Homo sapiens: one gene and its partners. The protein of the gene in region 2 interacts with the protein of the main gene of each other region in a biochemical or structural test. Each region holds a gene or a part of one and is shown on either strand. Other genes may lie near its edges.

Region 1 (3,747 bases), on a different chromosome or scaffold from region 2:
AAATGAAATGATAAGGAGACACAGGCTGGGAGACAATATTTGCAAAACACCTAGCTGATAATTCAAAACAGTATGGGAGTCTAAGAGTCTGGCAGCTTCTTAACAAAGTTAAACATATGCTTACCATATGCTCCAAAATGCCATTTTTAGTATTTACCCAAGAGAAATGAAAGCTTATGTTCACACAAAAACATGTACACTATGGTAGAAAATTCCAAAGAATCTACAAAAAGGCTACTAGGAAAACTAAGATTAAAAAAAAAAAGTTTCACCTCCGGAGAAGTTGAACAAATTCAACACTTTATATTAATATCCTTTAACAAATTATCTTTCCCAGTATTCAAGCTTAAATCAAGCTCTAATTTTAAAATCATCAATCATCAAAAAACTCTTAATATGCACTTGGTGTCAGGCATCGTTCTAAGTGTCTTATATAAATCACTAAGCGTCTTATATAAATCACTGTATTTAATCTTCAAACTCTCCACTCAGAAAACTTAAAAGTGGAACTCTCTTTTCCTTATTTCTTATACAGTTAATTAGATAATATTTTAAGCTTTGAGAGATGAAAAATTTCCCAACTTGACCTAAAATATTCCAGCTGGAGGCTGTTTCTGGATGTTAGGCCTAAATAAGCAGAAACAAGACATACAAGATATGAAAAGAATGTCTGCAATCATCGCATTTCTACCTGGATTCTCCACAACATGAACCATGACCTCGTTGTTCCCATTCACTGAATACGTAAAATAGAACCAACAGTCGTCAACATCCTTCTCCTTACAATGGGACACAGGATCAGGTTGGACCGGCTGGGGTAATTTGTCCCGACTTTCTACCTTGGTAATGTTAAAATAGGAACATTCCTGTGTGCATGTGTCTTTCTTTTCTCCTTTATTGAAGGCTCTGCACTGAACACATTCTCTGTTACAAAAAACACAAATTATGATATTTACATTTTATTATTTCAGTAAATATTTGCTTAAACATATTTCCCATGCTAAACTCTTGTGACCAAATTGAACAAACAGCTATGAAGGAAGATTTCAATAAATGAAGAGGAACATTACATTTGTGGATAGAAAAATTATGTAAAAAGATGCTAATTTCCATAATAAAATTAAAGATTTATTACAGTTCAAATTAAAACCCTATTAAGAAATAAAAGATAGTAAAATAAATTAGCCCTATCACATATTAAATATGTAACATAAAATCATAATAATTTTTTTTTTGCGATGGAGTCTTGTTCTGTCATCCAGGCAGTGCAGTGGTGTGACCTTGGCTCACTGTAACCTCTGCCTCTCGGGTTCAAGCAAGCCTCAACCTCCCAAGTAGTTGAGATTACAGGCACACACCACCATATCTGGCTAATTTTTGTATTTTTAGTAGAGATGGGGTTTCACCACATTGGCCAGACTGGTCTCAAACTCCTGACCTTAAGTGATCCACCTGTCTCGGCCTTCCAAAGTGCTGGGATTACAGGTGTGAGCCACTGTGCTCGGCCAAAATCATAATAATTTAAATAATATGTTACTAGTATAATAATCCTTCAAGAGGAAAAATCTTTAATTTGGCTTAGTTTTGTCAAAAGACAGTAATTAAGAAATTGGTAATGACAAATTAAATTAAATTAAATCTTAATTGCCAAAATAAAGGTTACCATGTAAATTCAATTATCTAGCACATTCAGATCAAAATAATAGTACAACTCTCACATGACACACTTCATACCATGTAATATATACTAGCTGTTGAGAAAGAACTTTTAAGAATTAAAGAGTAGGCTTCCACATGGCAGGCATTTTATTTACAGTATATTTTAATATTGGCACTGTTCTGGTTCTAGAAACAATACAGGCTTAGGAGAGCCAAGAGGAAGTATCAACTATTTCAAGCAATTAGGAAATACTTACTTATGCTCAGCACAGACACCAAGGCAGGTCTGACACATCTCACACGTTTGCCCTTGAAACTTCGGATCTGTACACTTACAGACACCACACTCGCAGATGCCCCGGCCATTGCAGATCTGTCCGTTGCTGGCTTCACAAGTACTAGTATCCAAAGAACAGTCACATGCACTGCCAGTGTAGTTGGGGTTGCACTCACACACACGACACTTGCAAACACCATTTCCTGCAATTAAGCATATCATTTCTCAAAATGGTAAAAATATACAATCACAGTATTGACTGAAAAGTAAAATAAGCAACAACATGTGAGAAAGTATACCTAGGGGCGAGACTGACCCTCAAGCTACCCCTTTTCTACTTATGCACCAACTAAACTCAAGATTTTTCGTGGCATTAGATGGGATCACATCTTACAACCACTTCAGGCCCTTTACTTACCTCCACAAATTAAGCCATTGGATCTATCACAGTTGAAATTATCACACTCGCAGAATTTGCCAGAATAAATTTCATTTGTATTATCCCTCTTCCTACAAACACACTGTCCGCAGACGCACTCTCCATTGTTACTGCAGATTTCTGAACTGTTTTCTTTCCTGCAGTAAGCATCCATGTCTTCACTGTTAACTTCATCTGTGCTGCATTCACAATGTCTACCAACACGCCCTTCATTGCACCTGAAGAAACATGCCAAAATTGCAATCACACAAAACAAAAATAATTTAAGAGGTTCCAAGATGGCCAAACAGGAACAGCTCTAGTCTACAGCTCCCAGCGTGAGCGACACAGAAGACAGGTGGTTTCTGCATTTCCAACTGAGGTACTGGGTTCATCTCACTGGGGCTTGCTGGACAGTAGGTGCAGCCCATGGAGTGTGAGCCGAAGCAGGGCGGGGCATCGCCTCACCCGGGAAGCACAAGGGGTCAAGGAATTCCCTTTCCTAGCCAAGGGAAGCTGTGACAGACGGTACCTGGAAAATCAGGACACTCCCACACTAATACTGCGCTTTTCCAATGCTCTTAGAAAACGGAACACCAGAAGATTATATCCCGCGCCTGGCTCAGAGGGTCCCATGCCCAGCTCAGAGGGTCCCACACCCATGGAGCCTCGCTCACTGCTAGCACAGCAGTCTGAGATTGAACTGCAAGGCAGCAGGGAGGCCGAGGGAGGGGTATCCCCCATTGCTGAGGCTTGAGTAGGTAAACAAAGCAAAAAAAAGCTAAAACTGGGTGAAGCCCATTGCAGCTCAAGGAGGCCTGCCTGCCTCTGTAGACAACACCTCTGGGGGCAGGGCATAGCTGAACAAAATCCAGCAGAAACTTCTGCAGACTTAAACATCCGTGTCTGACAGCTTTGAAGAGAGTAGTGGTTCTCCCAGCACGGAGTCTGACATCTGAGAATGGACAGACTGCCTCCTCAAGTGGGTCCCTGAGCCCGAGTAGCCTAACTGGGAGACACCTCCTAGTAGGGGCTGACTGACACCTCATACAGCCCGGTGCCCCTCTGAGACGAAGCTTCCAGAGGAAGGATCAGGCAGCAACATTTGCCATTCTGCAATATTTGCTGTTCTGCAGCCTCCGCTGGTGATACTCAGGCAAACAGGGTCTGGAGTGGACCTCCAGCAAACTCCCAACAGACCTGCAGCTGAGGGTCCTGACTGTTAGAAGGAAAACTAACAAACAGAAAGGACATCCACACCAAAACCCCATCTGTACATCACCATCATGGAAGACCAAAGGTAGATAAAACCACAAAGATGGGGAGAAACCAGAGCAGAAAAGCTGAAAATTCTAAAATTTGAGCACCTCTTCTCCTCCAAAGAAATGCACCT
Region 2 (3,747 bases):
GGGCTGGAGGAGGATGGCAAAGGCTACAGAGTTTGGAGGCAGTCCCACCATCTGCAGGGATGAGCACCGTCACCTTCTCAGAGACTCTCCGGGCACACTCTATGAGCTCCTTCTTGGTGTAGGCATCACTGGGGCTGCACTGCAGGGCGCCTGCCTTGGTGACCAGAGCGGCACAGCCATGGCCCAGCTCCTGTACCCGGTGTTTGATATGGGAACCTATCTGTGAGCCAAGGGAAAGACAGATGGATTTTACAAGGGGCACTCAGGGTACCTTCACTGTGCTTGGAAAAGTCACTAAGGACATAGAAAAAAACATGCATTGTAGACTAAAGAAGCAGAGAGAGAAGGTTCCCAGCACAAGGACGTTTCCGGTTGCATATCCTTTAGGCAGAAGGTCACCTCCTACACACAGAAAATAGTAGCACGCAGGCACTAAGTGGTGAGGATTGTGTTAAGCACAGTGGGGAGAAGGGGAGGAGCACTTTATGCTTGAATGTGGGAATCAGAGGGCCGTGGATTACCATGTGGCCTGTATGGGGTTATGGAGGGTTTTAAGGATGGGCATTACATGTGTCCTGCTAAGATCCAATTACTTGCTTTCTTGGAAAGCTAGAGGCTTAGGTAAGGAAGAGCTTCATGAGTTTGCAACAAGAAAGAACAAGAACATGGACTGGCAGCACAACAGAGAAGCAGCTGTAGGCCCAGATGAGGGTCGGCAGAAGCCAGAAAGGCAGGCCCGGGAAGGCTCCAGATTCTGAGCTGTTTCCTTTGTACCTGTGACTGAAGGCTTTGATCCTCTGTCCCTACCCAGAGCCTCACTAGTCTTCAGCAGAGTGGCCCTGAGGCTGTTCCCCTTTCTATGAAAGACCAGAGAGGGTGGGGGTGGGACAGCCCTAGACACTGACACATCAGGAACAAGGGGCAGGGGGCAGGGCAGAGTTGCCTCCACGTTTACCTCTTCATTTTCAGCAGCCACCGCTGCAGGCTTGGCCTCCGAGGCCAGACGGCCATAGTCACTGGTCAGCTGGTTAGCAAGAGGGCCCAGCTCCTCTGGGCTGGTGTTTGACTTGGTAACCTGGTGATAATGGAACGAGTGAAGTTATATCCAAAGTCAGCTCTCCGAGGGCAGTCCTCTGGGACTCGCCCAAACTCACCATCTCCTGAACGGTCACTGCAATGGCCTTGGCTGTCCGCACCATAGTTGTTTGGTAATCCACGAAGGAACCTTCTGGTTCACCCATTGGTCCTTCATCTAGCTGAGGGGGGAGGATAGGGAAAGGGAAAGACTGTTAGGGTCTCTGCCACTGTGCTTGGAGGCTCTGGCCCAGGGTAGCCTCAGTGTCCAAAGGCACCCCAAGACTCTAACCTGGTTGATGGCCTGGGTGATGGAGTCCACCATGCCACCCACGACCCCAGCAGCACTGGCTGCCTCGTTGAGGGTTGTTGTCAGGTCCTCTACGGCCTCGGTCATCATCTGCACAGCCTCCTCCAGGGCTTCCTGGGTGTGAGCTGCTTGCTGTGGGGAGAGGAGAGGAGCTCTGTTGTTCCTGTTTCTCCAGCCTCCTGCTAGTAACAGCTCCTCCCTCCCAACCCTCAATACCTTTGGGTTACCACCAGCCTCCTTGGCAGTGTATAGCAACTGCAGGGCAGACTCTGCCAATGTTTTAGTCTGGTCCAGGAGTGCCATCTGCTGCGGGTGGCTCAGGGTCTTGGAGGCAGCACCCACTGCAGCCAGGGTGAGCGGCTCAAAGTACTGCGCCATCTGGGACACCTGAGGCAAGGGGTTGGACTAGGGGTCAGGTCCCCTCTCTCTCACCCTACTCCCTGGGACTTCCCATGAGTCTCCATAGGTACCTTGTGTCCCAGCTGGGAGGCTTCAGCCCGGGCAGCATTGGCCAGCGGCTCAATGAGATGGGAGATCTCTTGGACTGCAGTGAGCATCTGAGTGTGCAAGGCCTGGGGAGGAAGTGGACATTAGCCCTGATGGTGACCTGCAATAGGACCCTCTGGCTACAAAGAACTGCTCTTCTGTCCATACCAAATACCCTAACCCTCCTTCGCACATCCCAGCCTTTGATGTCCCTAAGAAGCCACTCCTTGATCCCCCAGCTTCTTTGAGTCTGATATTTCTCTTCCTAGACACATCTTTCCATATAACCCTCTCCCTCTCACCTCTTGAGAGATTCCCTCACGGGGAGCAAGCTGCTGGCTGACTGCAGCGAGGGAAGCCTGGTCTAGGTCCCGTAGACAACTGTTCAGAGCTGCAATGGCCGTTTCACACTCCAGCTGCCCTGGAGCCTTGTCCCTGCAGACACATCATGGGCTCCAACACCAAGAACATCCCCTACTGCAAGGCCAGCCTATCCTTCCCCTGTATCCTCCCAACACCATCCCATCTCATTGCACTCAAGTGCCCATCCTCCATTCTGCCACAATGTATGCCCCCCAGCCACACTGGTTCCCCATCCCTCAATACCTCATGCTTGTAATTAGCTTCTTGATGGAGTCTGAGACAGTACGGGAGTGGCCGGCCAGCACCGACCAGCTCGGGGGGTCCCGGGGATTGACTGCGAGGGCCCGGGCTGTCTGGATGAGTCCCCCGGCACTCTCTAACATTGTCTTGGCAGAGATCACAATGGGCTCCATGGCAGCCCGACCCTGGGGAGAGGGGAGGCAGGAAGGTAAGTCTCAGGAGTCCCTGGAAGATGAGGTGATAAGCTGGCCCATCAGTTCCCCCTTCACATCGCCTCACCTCAGGGCTGATCTGGGCAGGAATGCTGGAGAACTCAGGGTTGGACGCAAAGGCACTCAGATTGTCCACAGCCTCCAGCAGAGGGGCTGTTGCTGCTCGGCACTGGGCACGGTTCTCCTCTGTGAAGGCCCCATCTAGCGCCTAGAAGTGACAGAGAGGCTCTCAGGACTTGGGATGCAGTCATAGGGGGTATAGGAAGTGAAGTCCAGGTCTCCTTCCTGGGACTTACAGGATTTGGGGAGAGGCTAGGTGGTCAGTCTGAATAGAAAGAGCTTGGGCTCAGGCAGAGGGGATTTGGTAGAAGGCTTCAGAGAATAACTGGGGGACTCGGGGGAGAAGATAGGACAGGTCAGGGAGAGGCTGGGAATTCAAGCAATGGGAACCTTGATGGTCTTGACAAGATTAGCTGTGCTGTTGGCCACCTCCTTGGCTGACTGTACAAACTGGCGCTTGGCAGTAGGATTGGTGGTACGGGCAGAAGCCAGGCGACAGCTGTTACACAGTGCAGAGGTGTGTTTAGCCACAATGGTGGCTGCAGAGAGCACCTGAGGAGACACATGGAAGAGCCACGATGAGGGCAGGAAGGAGGTGTACATACCCAAGGAGGAGCCATTTTAGGGTCAGGGGATGGAGAGCAATACCCTGAGGAGTCAAAACAGGAATAACAGAGTCACCTGAAAAGTCAAGATCTAGGAGACAGAGATACCCAAAGATGAACTGGGCATGGGAGAGGAAAGACATACTAATGGAGAAACCATAAGAGGGCATGTGGGAGAGTAAGCTCGAACATCTACAGAGAAGTTGTGAATTTAGCAGTAACTGATAAATGATGAGACCCATGGCAGAAAAAGACAGTTACCCAAAAAGAAGCTGTGTGTGCAAGGTCAGAGATGGGTCCCTGCCCTCTTTCCCACATGCCTCACCTCCCTCTACTCCACGGGGTCGGTCTGCCCTTTCCCAGACTCGCCTGTGGTCCCTGTTCCCTTGAGTTACCT
Region 3 (3,747 bases), on a different chromosome or scaffold from region 2:
CTGCACTCTAGCCTGGCGACAGCGAGAGTCCATCTCAAAACAAACAAACAAACAAAAAAAGATATCCTTGCCCTGTCCAGAATGAGTTATACGTCTATACATACACAGAAGAGTCTTGACGGGAATCACTAAAGTATTTTCGAATAGTTTATCTTTGAAGTGAATTTATCAACAAATCTTCCCTTTTTAAAATAAATCCTGGCCAGGTGCGGTGGCTCACGCCTGTATTCCCAGCACTTTGGGAGGCTGAGGTGGGCGGATCACTTGAGGCCAGGAGCTCCAGACCAGCCTGGCCAACATGGTGAAACCGCGTCTCTACTAAAAATACAAAAATTAGCCGGCCGTGGTGGCAGGCGCCTGTAATCCCAGCTACTCGGGAGGCTGAGCCAGAAGAATCGCTTAAACCCAGGAGGCAGAAGTTGCAGTGAGCCGAGAACCCACCACTGCACTCCAGCCTGGGCGACAGAGCAAGACTCCGTCTCAAAAATAAATAAATAAATAAATAAATAATAAAATAAAATAACAAATCCCTTCTGCAGGGTGTAGATTGTTTTACGAGTACTACAGTTTTTATTAAAAATACTTACATGCACTCTTGTGTCATCCTCTGAGGCAGAGGCGGCCCCAGCAGACCAGGAGCCAGGGTTTCTCTCCAGCCCAGGCAAAATCACCAAGGACTCAGAGAGGACCACGGGCAGCAACCCCGGGCTGTGCCCGCTCCATCCCTCCACCTGTGTCCCCAGTACCAAAGAGGCCGAATGCCAATTGCCCTGACGGCTGACGGTGTGCGCAGCAGCCAGAGACAAAGCCAAGGATCCCACCGGCCCAAGGGAGCCTTTTCATGGCTCCCCGAATACACTAGAGATTTTTCGGGTGCAGGGTCTGCCCTGGGAGCAGAGGCACCGCTGCCACCTGGGGACACTGGAGGAGGCAAAGCCCTCATCCTGCTCCAAAACAACCCCGCAGGAAGCCAAGTTGAAGGTAAAAAAAAGAAAGAAAGAAAGAAAAAAGGAAAAGAAAAAACCTTCTGGAGAAAGCGTAACAGGAGAAATTGGAAATGTGGGGAAACTGGCAAACCCGCGCGCGCGCACGCTCTCACCCAGGAAGCTACAGCGGCATCCCTCTGCCAAGGCGCGGGAACAACCCCCGGAAGCCCCACCTCGCCTTGGCTCCTGGGCCAGTCGTCCTTGGCCCGACCAGGACCACCCGCGACGCGCGCAGCCCCGGGTGAGCGCGGGGCTCAGAGATGCGCCCACCGCACCGTGCGCGCCGCGGCGGCCGGGAAGGCGCTCAGCCTGGCTGATGGCTTCGGCGTCTCGGAGGACCCGCTCCCAGGCACCAGGCACCTCTCAGCCCCGCCACCGCCGGGCCAGGAAGGTCCCCAGCTCCCGGCTCCGACCGCGCCAGCCAGGACACGCGCATTCCCAGCGCAGACGCGCGGGACCAGCCCTCCGCGTTTGCCGGCTCCAAGTCCGCAACTTGACCGGGGCGCAGATCCTGGGGCAGCTGCGACGCTGCCGAGCCGGAGCCTCACTCACCTCCTACGCCAACGCCCGCCAGCGCCCCCAGCGCCAGCACAGTCGCCCAGAGCGGCCGGGGCCGCGGCCGCGCTCGCATCTCGTCCGCCTCCCGCGGCGCTCCGCCCGCCCCACAGTGGGCGCCGCCGCCCGCGGCCGCTTTTCCCGCAGCGGGAGGGGAGGGGAGGGGACGCGGTGGGTGGGACGCAACGGGGCGGGCCGCGGACTCGCGCTTCCTCCCCTCCGGCTTCTCTAGATCCCCTCGCGCTTCTCTAGACCCTGCGCCTGAGAGGGAGCGGTGGGAAACTATTGCTCCTCTCTCGCCGCCTCCCTCGCCTCGCCCACGAGGACCCGCCTGCCAGCCGGGTCGTCAGCGCATCCTGGTCCCGGGGGTCCGCGACTGGGCACTTGGTGTGCTTAGAAAGGCCAGGAGCCTGTGGCCCCTCTCCGGACCCTTCCAGTCCCGCCTCCTGGGAGACCCTGTTTCGCTGGATTCTTGGGACACATTCACCCACTACCTCGAGTTTCATTCATTCACACTTTAATTCATTTGACTGGCAAACATCTGCTGAATGCCTTCTCTGAACCGGTTCAGTCCTTTATTATTCACTAATTTTTTTCTTGCCTTAGTTTGGTTTTCCGGTAGACTACCTACCTGTTGAGGGCAAGACCACATCCCAAGCTTGCGTAAGCAGTGATAGGTCCATGAAGAGCCTCGCCCTACAAACACTTGCTTGCACCTAGCCAGTGTCTGAAAACGTTTCAGAACACAGCATATTGCCTCCAAATTCACACTCACAGGCTTTGGGACTTTATCTATTTTCCTCAAAGGCCTCCTGCCTGACTCCCCCAAACTGTGGCCCCTTATCTCCCACCCCAATCTTTCTTTGAGTCCCTGGGTCTTCCCCAGACTTAAAACCTCTGGAAGCTCAGAGAGGCAAAATACTATGGCTATGAGCAAGAGGGCACCAGGAAGTAGCTGGTAGTGCAGCCTGCCTCAATGGGTAGTCCTGATGGTGATAAAAACAAGGCCAGAGGCATCAGTTCCCCTTTAGGGCTTTCAGAGTGGCCCTGGGCTTCCCTACGCAGCGTGCCCACCCTCTTCTGAGACACACAAGATGCCAGACAACTGGCCCTGACCCATCTCTCCAGCCCATCTCCCACCCTAGTCCAAGAAGATACTTGTCATTCCCCAATGCTCCATGCCTTCCTATCTGACTGATTTTCCTTCCTTTTTCCACTTGGAAAATTCCACTTATCTTTCAAAACATCTCAGATGCCATCTTTTTCCATGTAATTTTTTTCTGACAATCCTCCACCTCCTGCCCCACCCTCCCAAACACTAGGACCTTAATAGTAACACACATCAGCTGAAGCGTCACTAGCAATTTGCAAGGGGAAAAGCCAGCTCTGCAAAGGGTACTTGGGCCCTCTGACCTGGGTTTTCAGGCTGAAGCTCCATCTACCTCCCCTGGCTGCAGAGGGCCTCTAGGCCAGAAGCATTTTAACAGCAGTGTCAATGCCCTGGAGCAAAGTTCAGGTCACATGGCCTGGTTACATCTCTGCCTAAGTATTTAGTTATCTGCTCCATTCCCATATATATAAAACCAATCTCCAGCCACTTAGGTGTCTCCTTAGCCTATCCCTGCTGTCAGCAACCACTTGGGGTGGGCACTGGCCTCAGCAAGTATGCTAAGTCCACAACCCTAGCCCAAGCCCTAGCAAACATGACATAATTGTGCAAGTGAGTCCATCCTGCACTCCCAGCCCCAGGGAAGGCAAAGGAGCTAGTCCATTCACATTTAGTATAGTAATTGATGGTTGTGTTTACATTTACTATCTTGTTATTCGTTCTATCTTTTTGGCTGGTTTCTCTGTTTCTCTTTTTCTGCTTTCTTTTGGGATAATTTTTTTTTCTCTACTGGCTTCCTAGCTACACCTCGTTTGCATGTGTGTGTGTGTGTGTGTGTGTGTGTGTGTGTGTTTGCTCTAGGTATTACAATATTCCTCCTTAACTTATCATACAGTAGCCTATGTTGAATTAATATTGAACAATTCTATGTAAATTGTAAGAACCTGTAAACTAAAAATAACATTATAAGCCCCCCCACAACTGTCTGAACTAACCCTTCCTCTCAGCCAAGGGCATTCCAAAGTTAATCTGAAAAACTAGTTCAGACCATGATGTGAAGCAGGTTTGGGGAAGGTGGAGGGGGGGTGGTGGTTGAAT

What was found.
Region 1: the proteins of TLN1 (region 2) and ITGB1 form a complex in vitro, tested with the Homo sapiens proteins (3 studies listed by BioGRID and IntAct, with this or other methods).
Region 3: the proteins of TLN1 (region 2) and ITGB3 form a complex in vitro, tested with the Homo sapiens proteins (6 studies listed by BioGRID and IntAct, with this or other methods).

Annotation. Positions count from the first base shown.
Region 1 is NC_000010.11:32,909,532-32,913,278, forward strand, and holds part of ITGB1 (integrin beta-1 isoform 1A precursor), read right to left. Parts: intron 2,594-3,747; coding exon 2,355-2,593; intron 2,140-2,354; coding exon 1,917-2,139; intron 925-1,916; coding exon 692-924; intron 1-691.
Region 2 is NC_000009.12:35,704,596-35,708,342, forward strand, and holds part of TLN1 (talin-1), read right to left. Parts: coding exon 3,746-3,747; intron 3,298-3,745; coding exon 3,136-3,297; intron 2,894-3,135; coding exon 2,753-2,893; intron 2,659-2,752; coding exon 2,477-2,658; intron 2,306-2,476; coding exon 2,173-2,305; intron 1,957-2,172; coding exon 1,855-1,956; intron 1,772-1,854; coding exon 1,601-1,771; intron 1,517-1,600; coding exon 1,367-1,516; intron 1,257-1,366; coding exon 1,155-1,256; intron 1,076-1,154; coding exon 956-1,075; intron 221-955; coding exon 74-220; intron 1-73. UniProt on the Homo sapiens protein: High molecular weight cytoskeletal protein concentrated at regions of cell-matrix and cell-cell contacts. Involved in connections of major cytoskeletal structures to the plasma membrane.
Region 3 is NC_000017.11:47,251,732-47,255,478, reverse strand, and holds the start of ITGB3 (integrin beta-3 precursor), read right to left. Parts: upstream 1,653-3,747; 5' UTR 1,618-1,652; coding exon 1,539-1,617; intron 1-1,538. UniProt on the Homo sapiens protein: Integrin alpha-V/beta-3 (ITGAV:ITGB3) is a receptor for cytotactin, fibronectin, laminin, matrix metalloproteinase-2, osteopontin, osteomodulin, prothrombin, thrombospondin, vitronectin and von Willebrand factor.